Homo sapiens: one gene and its partners. The protein of the gene in region 2 interacts with the protein of the main gene of each other region in a pairwise test. Each region holds a gene or a part of one and is shown on either strand. Other genes may lie near its edges.

Region 1 (3,500 bases), on a different chromosome or scaffold from region 2:
TATGGCTGTATAATATTGCATTGTGTATATAGACCACGTTGTGTTTGTCCACTCAGGTTGCTGTCACCTTTTGGGTATTTTTGAAAATGGTTAATTTTGGCTACCATGAAACATGGGTGTACAAATAACTCTACAAATTTCTGCTTTCCATTCTTTTGAGTATATACCTGGACGTGGAATTGCTGGATCGTATGGTAATTCTATGTTTAACTTTTTAGAAACTGCCATTCTGTTTTCCATAGTGGCTGCACAATTTTACATTCCCACCAGCAGTACACAAGAGTTCCAATTTCTCCACATCCTCATCAGCACTTATTCTTTAATAATAGTCATCCTGAGGGGTGAAAAAGTTATCTTGTTGTGATTTTGATTTGAATTTCCCTAATGACTGTCACTGCTGAGTGCTATATTCATGTGTTATTGGCCATTTGTATATCTTCTTTAGAAAAATGTCTATTCAAGTCCTTTGTCCATTTTTTTAATTGAGTCATTTTTGTTGAGTTGAAGTTCTTTACATATTCTAGATATTACTTATCAGATATAATTTGTGATTATTTTCTATTTTTCGGTTGCCTTTTCATTCTCATGGTGTCCCTTTGATGCATGAAAGTTTTCAATTTTGATGTAGTGCAACTTTTTGCCTTTGCTTTTGATGTCATACCCCAAGATATTATTGCCAAATCCAACATCATGAAAATTTTTCCCCTATATTCTCTTTTAAGAATTTCAGTTTAATCTCATGGTTACGTCTCTAATCCATTCTGAGTTAATTTTTTGTATATGGTATAAGGTAAGCGTCCATTGTTATTTTTTGTGTGGGTATCCATATTTCCCAGCACCTTTTGTTGAAAAGGCTGTTTCCCCCATTGAACAGTCTTGGCACCCTTGTTGAAAATCATTTGATCATATGTGTAATAGTGTATTTCTGGGCTCTCTATTCTGTTTTATTCATCTGTACATCTACCTTTTTACCAGTGCCACAGTGTTGTTGATTATTGTAGCTCTGTAGATCGTTTTAAAACTTGGAGAGGGTTTTTACGGTCCAGTTAACACTTGATTGCCAGATCCAGGGGATTCCATAAAAGGACTTTAAGAAAGTGACATGATCACTGATGCAGGGGACCCTGGACCTCAGTGACTTCTCCTGTTACTCCCTCTTTCCACCCCCACTTTGTCCTGCCCTAACTTGAACATCCCCTTCCTTCTGTAGCCCCTGAAGAAGATGGCCGACCGGATCAGGAAGTATCAGATCTTGAACAATGAGGTTTTTGCCATCCTGAACAAATACATGAAGTCCGTGGAGACAGACAGTTCCACTGTGGAGCATGTGCGCTGCTTCCAGCCACCCATCCACCAGTCCTTGGCCACCACTTGCTAAGCAGAAGATCCTGCAGACCCTTATCTGGAGGAGGAAGAGAAGCAGGAGAGAGAAAGCCACAGCCAGCCTGCCATAGGATCCAACTGGACAACGTGTGGGATGGACCTGGAAACAAGCACCTCCCCAAACACATCACCACTCCCTAGGGCGGGGCCTGTGCATGCTCTCCCATGACATCTCCATGCTGGTTTCTCCATAGCATAAATGAAAAAAAAAAAAAAAAAGTAAACAGGGCAGTGTGTGCTTTTTCTTTTCTCCCCCCTCAACTATATTAAGAACTCCTAGTTTCACCCTTTCTCCATCCCATCATCCCACCTATCTGTGGTTGCTTCCCAAGACCTCCTCCCAAGATAGACATCTCCTACCCAGTGCCCTTGTGTGACCCCAGGACTCAAGTCTCAGACTGTGAACAGATGTGGCCATGCCCAGAGACGCCAGCCTGGCCAGAAGGGCATGCCTCAGCTTACTACTTCATCTCTCCTGGTTCCCTCCCTGCAGTGCCCCGGGTGTCATCTTCTCCCACTCTGGGTACCAGGGATTCTACCACATAGGCTTCCCAAAGCCCCATTCTAACTCCCCTCTCTCAGGGAAGCCCTAGAGAGAGGTCCAAAAAGCATTCACAGCTGTATCACACTCTATGCAGGTGGGGTAGGAGACTGATCAGGCCTGCTGTGGGGAAGCAGTATGTATGAACACAGCCAGAAATGTCATAGTCCAAACAGGATGCTTTCAGGCCATCTCAGCTGCTTGATGGTGAGATGGTTCCCTTATTCCTTCAGGAAAGGCTTAGCATTGGGCCACATAGGGGAAGCAGCTTTGAACAAATCAGTCATAGCACTGCCTATAGCATTAGCCAGTGACCAAATTAGGGACAACGTCTTGGCACAGAATTGCTTATCAAGGAACATTTCCACAAGAAAGAAAATATTAAGGGGTTATTTCCACAGAAGCCCAAAACGTCTTGGAAACACAGAGGTGAGGAGGAGGAATAGTAATTGTCAATGAGCTTTTAATACCAAGATACACCCCCTGCCCCCAAAGAAGAGTCCTCTTTTAGGGAATCAGAACCTTCATTGTCCTAGAAGCTGAAAGATTCTTGGAACATTTTAGCTTTTACTCTCAACTTGCTGTTCTCTTTACATTCCTTAAGTTAGACTTTCGGGTGTGGCTTCTCTCCCAGGGGTAACATTTACTTCCATTTTCTAGACTGAACCAAAAGTCTTCTGCAGAATCTCCCACCGAGTGTGGTAAGAAGGAAGGACAAAAGGCTTTAGGATATAAATTTCATGTTACAGAGCATGTCATTGTCAAAGGAAATCTGTGGCCCTGAGATTTTAAGAACATAAAATGTGACATTTGATATTTCTCCAGCCCAGGGAAGTAAGATGGTTAGCAATGGTTGCCTTAATCAAATGGTCCCATTTTTAACCCCAAAGGAAGTGCCCACAGCAAGAGGTTTGTGTGATGCACTTATGTCCTCCGGTGAGGAAAGGGGGCCACATATGAAAGGCCCCTTAGGTCAGATCCTGAGAGTAGCACATTTGAGTGCAGATTCCTGGGCCCCACCTCAAACCTACTAATTCTGAATCTCTGGGAATAGGGCCAGGAAATCTGCCCTTTCTACAAACTACCCAAGTTGTTCTGTTGCACATCAATGTTTGGGAACCACTGCTGTAAGGGAATCATTCTGGTCACCTTGAGCTTTGAGCTACCACTAAGCCATGAAAGAAAATACATCATACAGGGAAGAGAGAAGGGAGGAGGTTCCAAGTAGTAACTGGCAGATCCTCCTGTCTGGAGGTACCACCTTCTATTCTGGTTTCTGACTTTTCCTTCTTGATGACCATAGATGTGTTCCAGAGGCAAAAGAGACACATTATCCCAGATGGCAGAACATGCTTTCAAAACATATAAAATGTCAAAGTTCCAGATCCTTCTACATCTTTAGTCCTGTCTGAGGATGGTAGCTGGCTCTCTGTAGCTGATAGATGGCTAGAGTTCCATCCAAATCCTTGACCACGACTTCATGGAGATTTGAATAATCTATTTGATGAGATTTCTATTTCAATAACCCACCTCTCTCACCCCACATTCATATCCCTAAATTTGACCCTCTGGGCCG
Region 2 (3,500 bases):
ATTTTTAGTGGAGATGGGGCTTTACCATGTTGCCATACTGGTCTCGAACTCCTGACCTCAAGTGATCCTCCTGCCTCAGCCTCCCAAAGTGCTGCGATTACAGGCATGAGCCACTGCACCCGACCACTTCAGCTAATTTTGAAAAGTTCTAAAGGTTTATCTTAATTTGGGCAGGACTAATCCAGCCATTTGTAGACTGGCTATTTCAAGTGAGTATAAACATACATATAATCAATTTACTCTTAATATATTGTGAAGTATAAATATTTCAAATGAGTATAAATGTACATATAATCAATTTACTATTCATTTAGCATATAGGGAATGGTCAGAGATATTGCAGTGAAAGGCAGGTTGATATAAGCAAGAGGAAGGTGATTACTAGTTATCTACCAAGGCTCAAGTGGACAAGGGTCAGGAGCCCCTCAGTCTACTGAGGTCAAGTAAGACCATCTCTCCTCAGAGCTCTTAGCTACTCTCTTCAACTCTTCTAAGATTCTTAAAACACACTGATGTTGGCCGGGCAAGCACCTCAAAGTCCTGAGGTCAGGAGTTTGAGACCAGCCTGGACAACATGGTGAAACCCTGTCTCTACAAAAATACAAAAATTAGCTGGGCATGCTAGCGTGCACCTGTAATCCCAGCTACTAGCGAGGCTCGAGGCATGAGAATTGCCTGAACCCAAGAGGCGGAGGTTGCAGTGAGCTGACATCACACCATCGCACTCCAATCTGGGCAACAGAGCCAGGCTCCATCTCAAAAGAAAAGAGGAAAAAAAGTAATCAAAATAAGTTAAGATGCCACATTTATTAATCGATATTAACCCATTTCCCATTTAGAAAAAAAACAGTGCAGCTTGTTGCCAGTGCAGTATTCTCAGGGCAAATGGGAAACGGGTTGAATAATAGCAAAAGTTTTGACCATGAAAAAATGTAATTGTAGGCCACATGATTTAGATGAAAAAGGAGAGTGTAAAAAACTTTTTGAAGCTGATATTTTAGTTAGTACATTAAGTTTCTTACCCACGTGATAAAAACCCACACTTGCAAGCTAATCAGGATTAACTAGAACACTAGGTGGCCAGTTAAACAATCAAAAGGGTAACACATCACATTAAAATGCTGCGTGGCGACTAAAACAGATGAGATGAGTCTATACTTACCCTGACCACCCAATTTAATATTGTAACCTGCCTGGCATTTCTAAACTCCTCTTTGTTCTTTTTATTGATTGTACTTATTTTCCAACATGCTATAGAACTTATTCAAGTTTTTATTAGTTGTCTGTTCTCTCGTGCTATAATAAAAACTTAGGAGACCAGGGGTCTTTGTTTTGTTCAACTGATTTTATGCACCCAGAACAATGCCTGCCAATAGGTGATCAATTATTATTGAATACCGAATGAATGGAAATATATCCAAGACAAATGTTGACTGAAAAAACTTCAAAACTAGATATAATATTTAACTTATGTAAAATGGTGTACATTTATTTCTATATGTATATGTATTTATTTCTATATGTATATGTATCATATACATTTATTTCTATATGTCTGGAGGGATGTTCACTAAAGTGGTAACCATGCTCATCCTTAGGCGGTAAGATTTCTGGACATTTTAATTTTCCTTCTCTGTGCTTTTCTACAATGTGTGACTTTGTTTTTATAATGAGCATGTATTATTTAAATATATATATATTTCTTTAAAAATTAAACAAAAATCCCCAAATCTATTTCTTCGTTGTCTTAAGTCCATCGAAACTTTTTAAGTAAGTATTTTACTAAGTAATCCATCCTAAACTTATTCACAAATATATATTTGGAACAGAGTAAAGTAACAACTGATTTCAGGTGAACACATATAAGCAATCTCATGATAATCACAAGAATTTGCAAAGAGAATTTCAAAACAATTACCTTGGAAACCACTTGGCATGTTGAACCCATGGATCATCTCCAGATTCCCAACACCTGAGTCCACCATCACAGCAAAAGCATTTGACATCATCACTGTTACCTAAAATTAATTTTAGACCAAAACTTATGAATACACATAATTTGCCCACTAAAATGTATAAAATGAAATATATTTTTTTTAATTAGCAGATTCAGTTTCTTACCCACATAATAAAAACCCGCACTTGCAAGCTGCTCAGGATTAACTAGAACACTAGAGGGCCAGTTAAAGAATGTTTTAAAGCGGGCTGCATGTGTCTGCATGCTCAGATTAGAAACTGTGTATCTTGAAGTGTCTTGAAGCTGATTTTCTATAAATGGGCATTTGGGAAAATGTCTCAGGTGTTCTGACATAGCATTATCCTTCGGTTCCCAATTGCTCAATTTTCCACCACAGGCAAAGCAAGCCACTCTGTCTCCAGGTCCTATGTAGTAAAAGCCTGCTTTTGCCAGATCTGTTGGCGACAGAAAAGTCAATGGCCATGTCTGAAAAGTAAGTAATCTGGCATTTTCGTTATTCATTGCACAGTGGTAGGAACTTCTCATCAAGGCAGAAAAATCTTGATTTGCTCTGGAGTTTACAGGATTTGATGGAGAGTTTGAATAAGAGCCACGGAAATATCCACTGTTTTCTGTACCCGGAAGTAATGAGTGTGTGGAATTTGTTACTGAAGAAGGAAAAGTAGGCTGAGAGGTAGCTTCCAAGTTGTTAACGGAATTTAGACTCTGAACGAATCTGCAGCTAGGATACAACTTTTTATGCTTTTCAGTAGGACTGTCTCCTCTTTTCCAGTTATCCAGCATCAGGCCACAACAGAAGCATTTGACCTTGTCATTCACACCAGTGTAATAGAAACCAGCACGAGCAAGACTCCTTTCTGAGACAGGAACCCCAGCAGGAAAAGTGGAATACGTAGACATTCGGTACAGTTCACATGACAAGTCGTATTTCAGTTCAAACGTGTTGGCGCTTTTCATCAAATTTGATAAGAATATGCTGTTTTCTACTATGTTCATAATGAAATGAATGGGGAAGAAAAGGGACTAGCCTTTCTCTAGGGAGGTAGTTTTGTGCATGGCTTTGCTTTTATCAGTTTTAATACTAGGCTGAAAAGCCAAAATGAAAAATTTTTTATTATTTTTATTTCTATGCATTTAGAGTTTCAACATGGAGATTCTAAATCCTATACTGATACATTTTAAGGAAGAAATACACAATTGCACCTTTGTATAATCTTTATACATACAATGTAAACATGATGCTACAGAGTAAGCTGTGTTGAAAATTAAAACCCTTCACAGAAGAGTGATGTGTATTAAGCCATCAGGATGCCATTTAATGGCAGGCATCTCCACAGGTAGGTCAACTTCTCCAGGCTACTAGAATGTTTCAGTGGCATTCAATCAACCCAAAGATGTAATGTGTGACTCATGAAGCTTCTTTTCATGGTGGAAAGCTCTGCTGTCAAGTGTTTCACAGCAAAAATATTCAGAATATGTTTATTTTGCTTTTTGGAAATTGTGAAATTTAGTGGCCAGGAAA
Region 3 (3,500 bases), on a different chromosome or scaffold from region 2:
GAATTAGAAAAAAATTCACCAACAATTCTGATTTATAAACTAAAAAAAAAAAAGAAAATAGGAAAAGAGGCAGATTTTCCAATACGTAAATCTCTCTGCCATACTTCGACAGGTTTAATACAGAGTATCTGTTCCCTCCAGAAAAAAATAATTACCAGAAAATATGAAAACCCTATTTCCTGAAACATCACTTCTTTGATTCTGAGCTCTGTTCCATGTTGAATACAAACAACCACATCCACAATCTTTAACTCGGGCTTACTTTACCACTATTATCTATGAATGGGAAGTAGAGCAGCTAGTGATTGATAAAAGTGAAAATGGAGACTGGCCATAACTACCTTCGAAATCATTTAGGAATCAGAAATGTCCATAAGATGGCTAGGAATAAGCCACACTTTGAAGCTGACATTCTAACTGAATGTTGCTATATTACACCAACAAATGTGAAGATTCATCAGAAACTGAACAACTTTGAAATCACATTTCAGTAATTCTACTTACCCCTTTCTTCCTTATAAATTCTCTGAGATATTTTATCTATCAAATTTATTTTCTGGCTAAATAGTTCAATAAAGTTATTCATTTCCATGAACTCCTCTGGGCGGTTTTTAACTCCTCTCATTGAGGACGCAACAGCTCTGACGGTTTGCCCCATCCTGCTTAGCAAGCCAGGACCTTGCTTCTTGTGAGAAGAGAGTTCCTAGAAACAAAAAACCAAGTATTTCTAGTGAAACAAGTCTCAATATTCCGAGACTCAATACAAAAATAAACCTAATTAGGAGAATAAAATCAAGATAAAATGGTTTCATAGGCATCAATCTTTTTTAATGTTAGCTTGAAGCAGATGAGCTTTATTAAGGTACAGTGTTTCCTCTAAGTGGCAGCCTCAATAATATTCCCTTTCACACTACTCATGTAAAACAGGTATATAGTCTTTCCTCAGACCGTAAATCTTTAAAAGAACAGGGTTTAACCGACAGAATAGTGCTCAATGAGATACTAGAGGAGATAAGGATAATATGACATACCATCTATATTTTATAATAGGAATTTAATGGAAAATGATTGAGAGAAGATTTCTCAGGGCCTAAGTTATACTCCAAAAAATAAAATTGGAAAACTTCATTAATTCTTTAGATGTAATAGTAGCTAACATTTATTTAGAGCTTAATACATTCTGGGCACTATACTGACATTTTAATACACGTAATTCACCATAAACCTATGAGGTAGGTTTTATTATTTTCCTCATTTTACAGAAGAAAATAGAGGCACAGGAAAGTTAACTAACTTGCTCAAGATCCCAGAGCAGGCCGGGTGCAGTGGCTCACGTCCGTAATCCCAGTACTTTGGGAGGCCGAGGAGGGCATACATGAGGTCAGGAGATCGAGACTACCCTGGCTAACACGGTGAAACTCCCTCTCTACTAAAAATACAAAAAAATTAGCCTGGCGTGGTGGCAGGTGCCTGTAGTCCCAGCTACTTGGGAGGCTGAGGCAGGAGAATGGCGTGAACCCAGGAGGCAGAGGTTGCAGTGAGCCGAGATCATGCCACTGCACTCCAGCCTGAGCCACAGAGCGAGACTCCATCTCAAAAAAAAAAAAAAAAAAAAAAAAAAAAATCCCAGAGCAATTAAGTGGTAGAGCAAGAACTGGAATCCTGGAAGTCTGATTCCAGAGGCTTCATTATTAAGCACCAACTTGCTCTGCCCGCTTAAAGTCATTAGGATGGTTTGTAAATAGATACTACCTGAACATAGCACTTCAGCCAAATGAAGTGGGTAAACAGTGACACCACCTTCACCAACTGGCTGTCTACAGAGAAAACTTTTTTTTTTTTTTTTTTTTTGAGACGGAGTCTCGCTCTTTCGCCCAGGCTGGACTGCAGTGGCACAATCCTGGCTCACTGCAAGCTCCGCCTCCCGGGTTCATGCCATTCTCCTGCCTCAGCCTCCTGAGTAGCTGGGATTACAGGTGCCCACCACCGCGCCCGGCTAATTTTTTGTATTTTTAGTAGAGACGGGGTTTCACCGTGTTAGCCAAGATGGTCTCGATCTCCTGACCTTGTGATCCGCCCGCCTCGGCCTCCCAAAGTGCTGGGATTACAGGCGTGAGCCACCGCGCCCAGCTGAGAAAACTTGTAATAAGATACGAAACTAGTTATTTCATACTTAACCTAGGAGGGACGACTATAGACTTGCAAAATAGAAAACATCCTATAAAAGAATATACTGCACAGAAACATATCCCTTGAGAAGTATGGCATAAGTTAAAAGAACAAATACAAACAAAAAAGGACAAGGGATTTTAATAATCATTGTGGCCCTTGTTGAGACACAAGCTTGGGATCGAATAAAATATATGATCAAATAAAATACTGCTGACTACCTAATTTACAGATAAAAATATTATATATTATTTACCCAAATATTAAATAACACATTGTCTATCTTCCTTCAGGTTTTCATTCCTGAATATCTTGCAGAATACATACAAAGTAAACTTGTTTATTTCCAATTCTGTGTGATTTCTTTTGTGCCAATAATAACAGATGCCATCCTTGACCAGGCAATACATCCATCCAAGAGTGCTACAGCCTCATTTGATAGAGTAAACATTATCAGAGACAGCTCACGTCACAACTGGCAAGCTGTTACTGAAACTGTTGACTGTAGAAAATATTTCTAACAGCTTCTAAGGTTCTGAAGTCAGGCCGCATATTCATTTCACATAAGTCACAAAGGGCTTCCATAGAGGACTATCTGTCAAGATTGAAATGAACCACTTTTTAGCTTCTACCACTGGCAACAACTGAGAGATATAAAACTCAACATTTGCCAGTAACTGTTTAATATTGACCCTTTGTCCTGTCTGGTATCTTTCTTGCAGAGTTATAGCTTTATAGAATAAAAGAAAAAACAAGTAGAATGGATAAGGTTTCTGTATTAGAAATTAGACACTCCCCCACTTAGATAATTAAAGGAAAAGTAAGGAGATTATATTATCTATCTGTCCGTCCATCCATCCATCCATCCATCCATCCATCTCCATTCATCCATCTACCCATTTAATAAGGACTTTTATCCTAACTTAAAAAGCCCTGATCCATTATTACTCAAAATAAAGTAGACCCTTGAACAACACAGGTGTGAGCTAAGCAGGTCCACACATGTGGACTTTTTTCAATAAATATACTGGAAAATTTTTTGGAGATTTGTGACAACTAAAAAAACCTCACAAACCACATAGTCCAGAAATGTAGAAAAAACTGAGAGAAAGGTATGTCATGAATCCACAAAATGTATGTGGATACTAGTCTATCATTTACTACCCTAAAATGTGTATAAATCTATTATAAAAAGTTAAAATTTATCAAAACGTATGCACATATTTTGACTTACATGCCACCATATGCAGTTGAGAGAAATGTAAACAAACATAAAGATGCAGTATTAAATCAAAACTGCTTAAAATTAACTACACTACACACTGTACTAT
Region 4 (3,500 bases), on a different chromosome or scaffold from region 2:
AGCATGTTAGCTACTCTTCATTTCATCATATAACTATTACTATGGTATAAATGTATACACTAAATAGCCAACGAAAGCTAGAAATTTTGCTCTTAAAACATGGAACAACTAAGCTATATAGTAAATATTACACTACTGCAGCTGAGTATCTTATGCCCTTAACAGATAATTACAGCCATCAACTGAGAAGATTCTTTAATGAGTTGAAAAACTGCTTACCGTTTAGTCTGACTGAAAAAAAGATTATGCAAAATCATATGTACTTAAGACTTTTCTTCCATGAACACACATTTCTACAAAGATGGAATCCTTCTACGTATGTTGTTTTATAATCTCTCTTCAACTTTCAGGGACATCTTTCCAAGTTAGTATACATAAACCTATTCACAATCTTTTTAATGACTCTGTGGTAGTTTATTTTATGGATATGCTTTAACAAATTCCACCCAGTATCTGTTTTTTTTTTTCTATATAAACAATGCTGAAACAAATGATTATTTAACATTTAAAAATAAAACCAGTATTCAAATGTTTGTACTTTATTAGGTTTCTACAGATAAACTTTTAGACTTCTTACACAAAAAACCGTAAGGACACCCACAATTCTAACAACTCAGAAACAAGTTTGGCTTATCCTGCACACTACAAAGCAAGGATTTTTTCCTTGTTTTTATTCTTTAAGCAAATTCTAATTAATTTTGATTTGCTCACGCTAAGAATTCCTGAATCGGTCATAATGCTAGAATTGAATCGGTCATAACCCTTTTTTTTTTTTTTTTTTTTTTTTGACAGAGTCTCACTCTTGCTGCCCAGGCTGGAGTGCGGTGGTGCAATCTTGGCTCACTACAGCCTCTGCCTCCTGGGTTCAGGTGATTCTCCTGCCTCAGACCACTGAGTAGCTCGGATCACCAGGCGTGCGCCACCACACCCGGCTAATTTTTTATTTTTAGTAGAGATGGGGCTTCGCTCGCCATGTTGGCCAGGCTGGTCTTGAACTCTTGACCTCAGGTGAGCTGACCACCTTGGCCTCCCAAAGTGCAGGGATTATAAGTGTGAGCCACCGCACCCAACCAATGCTATCTTTTCAAATTAAAGTTTGGCTCATTATTTAATACTATTAGAATCTCCATAACAATATGAGAATTTTACCTCTAGTTAGAGAGGTTCCATAACATTCAAGTCATATTGAGTAAGAATACTCGTCAAACAAGGAAATGAAAACTTTAAAAACTTATATATTTTAAAGGTAATAACATAACTATCTTTACAATAAAAGCTGATTATCTTGCTTTCAAAAATGGGGGGGAATCATAAAAATCAACTTGGCAATTATTCTCTGTAAAATGAAATGTTTTACTCTTATTTACTTTCCAAGCAATATCGCTCATGCTTTCCCCAGAAGATAAAAATCATGTAAGAGTTCACTGTTTATCAAGAAGAGGACAAAATTCCAATGGACCTATAAAAACATTTTTTAAAAATCCAAAAGACAAGTAAACTCATCCTATTTTACTCCTACATCTTTTGGAACTTGATTGCATTTGAGTTTCACATTCCTGAAATAAAGCTAGTAAACATTTCCATTTCTGTCCAGTTTTAAGAAATGACATTTATAATCTGACAATAGAAAAGAGCAGAAGAATCATAAAGAGAGCAGGGATCCAGAGATCCTTACCTGTTTTATAACTCTGTGATCTGTATATGTCCCTGAGCTCTTTCATAAGTCTATCTGAAGCTTGCACTGACCCAGACACTGCACCCTGAAACACAAAAGCCACTGTTTACCAGGGTCTGCTGAGCTAAGATTTAAGATATTTCAACCTGATCTAAAAGATTACAGCAAAAATGGATCACCACTCAACATTTTTTTTTTTTTTTTTTGGAGATGGAGTCTAGCCCTGTTACCCAGGCTGGAGTGCAGTGGCGCAATCTCAGTTCACTGCAACCTCCGCCTCCCTGCTCAAGAGATTCTCCTGCCTCAGCCTCCCAAGTAGCTGAGACTACAGGTGCGCACCACCACGCCCAGCTAAATTTTGTATTTTTTTTTTTGGTAGAGACGGGATTTCACCATGTTGGCCAGGATGGTCTCAATCTCTTGACCTCGTGGTCTGCCTGCCTCGGCCTCCCAAAGTGCTGGGATTACAGGCATGAGCCACTGTGCCCAACCTCAACATTTTAAGAAGTAAAAAAAAGCCCAATTAAATGAAGCATTATGAAGTTTCAAGAGGATATTAAAACTAGGCACAAGTCTAGTTCATTTCCTATTTCTTCTCATGTGAAAAAGTCTAGCCAACATGTCCAGACCACCATGGATTCCACAATAACAAAGAATTCAGTATGAGTCTATTCCAAACCCCAGCAATTTTTGAAAATACTAGAAGACACTCAAGGTGACACATTATTTACTAAAATAGAGTTCCATTCATAAGACTACAAACAAGAATATTACACAGATGGTCTAGTTCGCACATTAAGACACTGAGAAACATCTGCCTACATGCGACTGGTTTCAGTTTTTCAGTGCAGGGACATCTCTAAAGATGAAAACACATCAATATCTTATCATAAGACTAAATACAAACGGAACTATTTTTTGGTCACGTGAAATTAAAGATTTTAAACATTGCACTATACTTTGAAGGGGGGAAAAATCAAGTTTCCTAGCTCATTTCATATCTACAAAATATGAGAAGTTTTTCCTATCTCTAAAATATGAAGCATACCTATTTCACACGGTGGCTATGAAGACTAAATGTGAAGATATGTGAAGTATAAAGTACTTGGCATAGTATCCATCATGCAAAAGTGTTCAGTAACTTATAGTTGTTTTGACTATAACTCAAACTGGAATCGATCACAAGACATAAAGTACAGTCATCATTAATTCAAATGACAAACTTTGTTTTTTAAGTAATCAAGATATGGGGGCTTGACTAAATTTCTTTGCTCTACTAAAAATTATAAATTAGATTAATATATAAATTAGACTGAAGGAGGGAGAGTAATCTACCTGTTTTCAACATTTGGCATCTACTTACCTAACAATTCATTCCCTGTTTTGGGGAACCTGTGCCCAAGACAAAGTAACTGCTACTCAGATTTCACGGAGTTGGTCAATAGCTCTAACACAAGGCAAAAAGTAGTAAGTGTTCAGACAATCATTTGATGTTTCCCTACTCTGAGCATTTTATATATATACACACATCATTTTCATTTATTTTTGATAGCAATCATCCAAAAGGTATGTACTGTCTAGCCATATTTTAGAGCTGAGGAAAGTGAAACCATAAATTGTGTGTTTGTCACCAGACTCAGTGTTCTTTTCACATCCTGCTGCTTCACGTAAAAGAGATATTAAGTTGTGGCCGGACACAGTGGCTCACACCTGTAATCCCAGCACTTCGGGAGGCCAAGGCAGGTGGATCACTTGAAGTCGGGAGTTCAAGACCAGCCTGGCCAACATGGTGAAACCCTGTCTCTACTAAAAATACAAAAATTAG

The links. Proteins that work in one complex are often made in the same cells at the same time.
Region 1: the proteins of BIRC3 (region 2) and CYFIP2 interact in a two-hybrid assay, tested with the Homo sapiens proteins (one large-scale study listed by BioGRID and IntAct).
Region 3: the proteins of BIRC3 (region 2) and SNX7 interact in a two-hybrid assay, tested with the Homo sapiens proteins (one large-scale study listed by BioGRID and IntAct).
Region 4: the proteins of BIRC3 (region 2) and UBE2Q2 interact in a two-hybrid assay, tested with the Homo sapiens proteins (one study listed by BioGRID).

Annotation. Positions count from the first base shown.
Region 1 is NC_000005.10:157,391,623-157,395,122, forward strand, and holds part of CYFIP2 (cytoplasmic FMR1-interacting protein 2), read left to right. Parts: intron 1-1,210; coding exon 1,211-1,378; 3' UTR 1,379-3,500. UniProt on the Homo sapiens protein: Involved in T-cell adhesion and p53/TP53-dependent induction of apoptosis. Does not bind RNA. As component of the WAVE1 complex, required for BDNF-NTRK2 endocytic trafficking and signaling from early endosomes.
Region 2 is NC_000011.10:102,323,984-102,327,483, reverse strand, and holds part of BIRC3 (baculoviral IAP repeat-containing protein 3), read right to left. Parts: 5' UTR 2,975-3,500; coding exon 2,122-2,974; intron 2,019-2,121; coding exon 1,919-2,018; intron 1-1,918. UniProt on the Homo sapiens protein: Multi-functional protein which regulates not only caspases and apoptosis, but also modulates inflammatory signaling and immunity, mitogenic kinase signaling and cell proliferation, as well as cell invasion and metastasis.
Region 3 is NC_000001.11:98,692,721-98,696,220, reverse strand, and holds part of SNX7 (sorting nexin-7), read right to left. Parts: intron 704-3,500; coding exon 505-703; intron 1-504. UniProt on the Homo sapiens protein: Involved in the regulation of endocytosis and in several stages of intracellular trafficking. Together with SNX4, involved in autophagosome assembly by regulating trafficking and recycling of phospholipid scramblase ATG9A.
Region 4 is NC_000015.10:75,874,447-75,877,946, reverse strand, and holds part of UBE2Q2 (ubiquitin-conjugating enzyme E2 Q2), read right to left. Parts: intron 3,123-3,500; coding exon of another isoform or gene 3,114-3,122; exon of another isoform or gene 3,039-3,113; intron 1,761-3,038; coding exon 1,676-1,760; intron 1-1,675.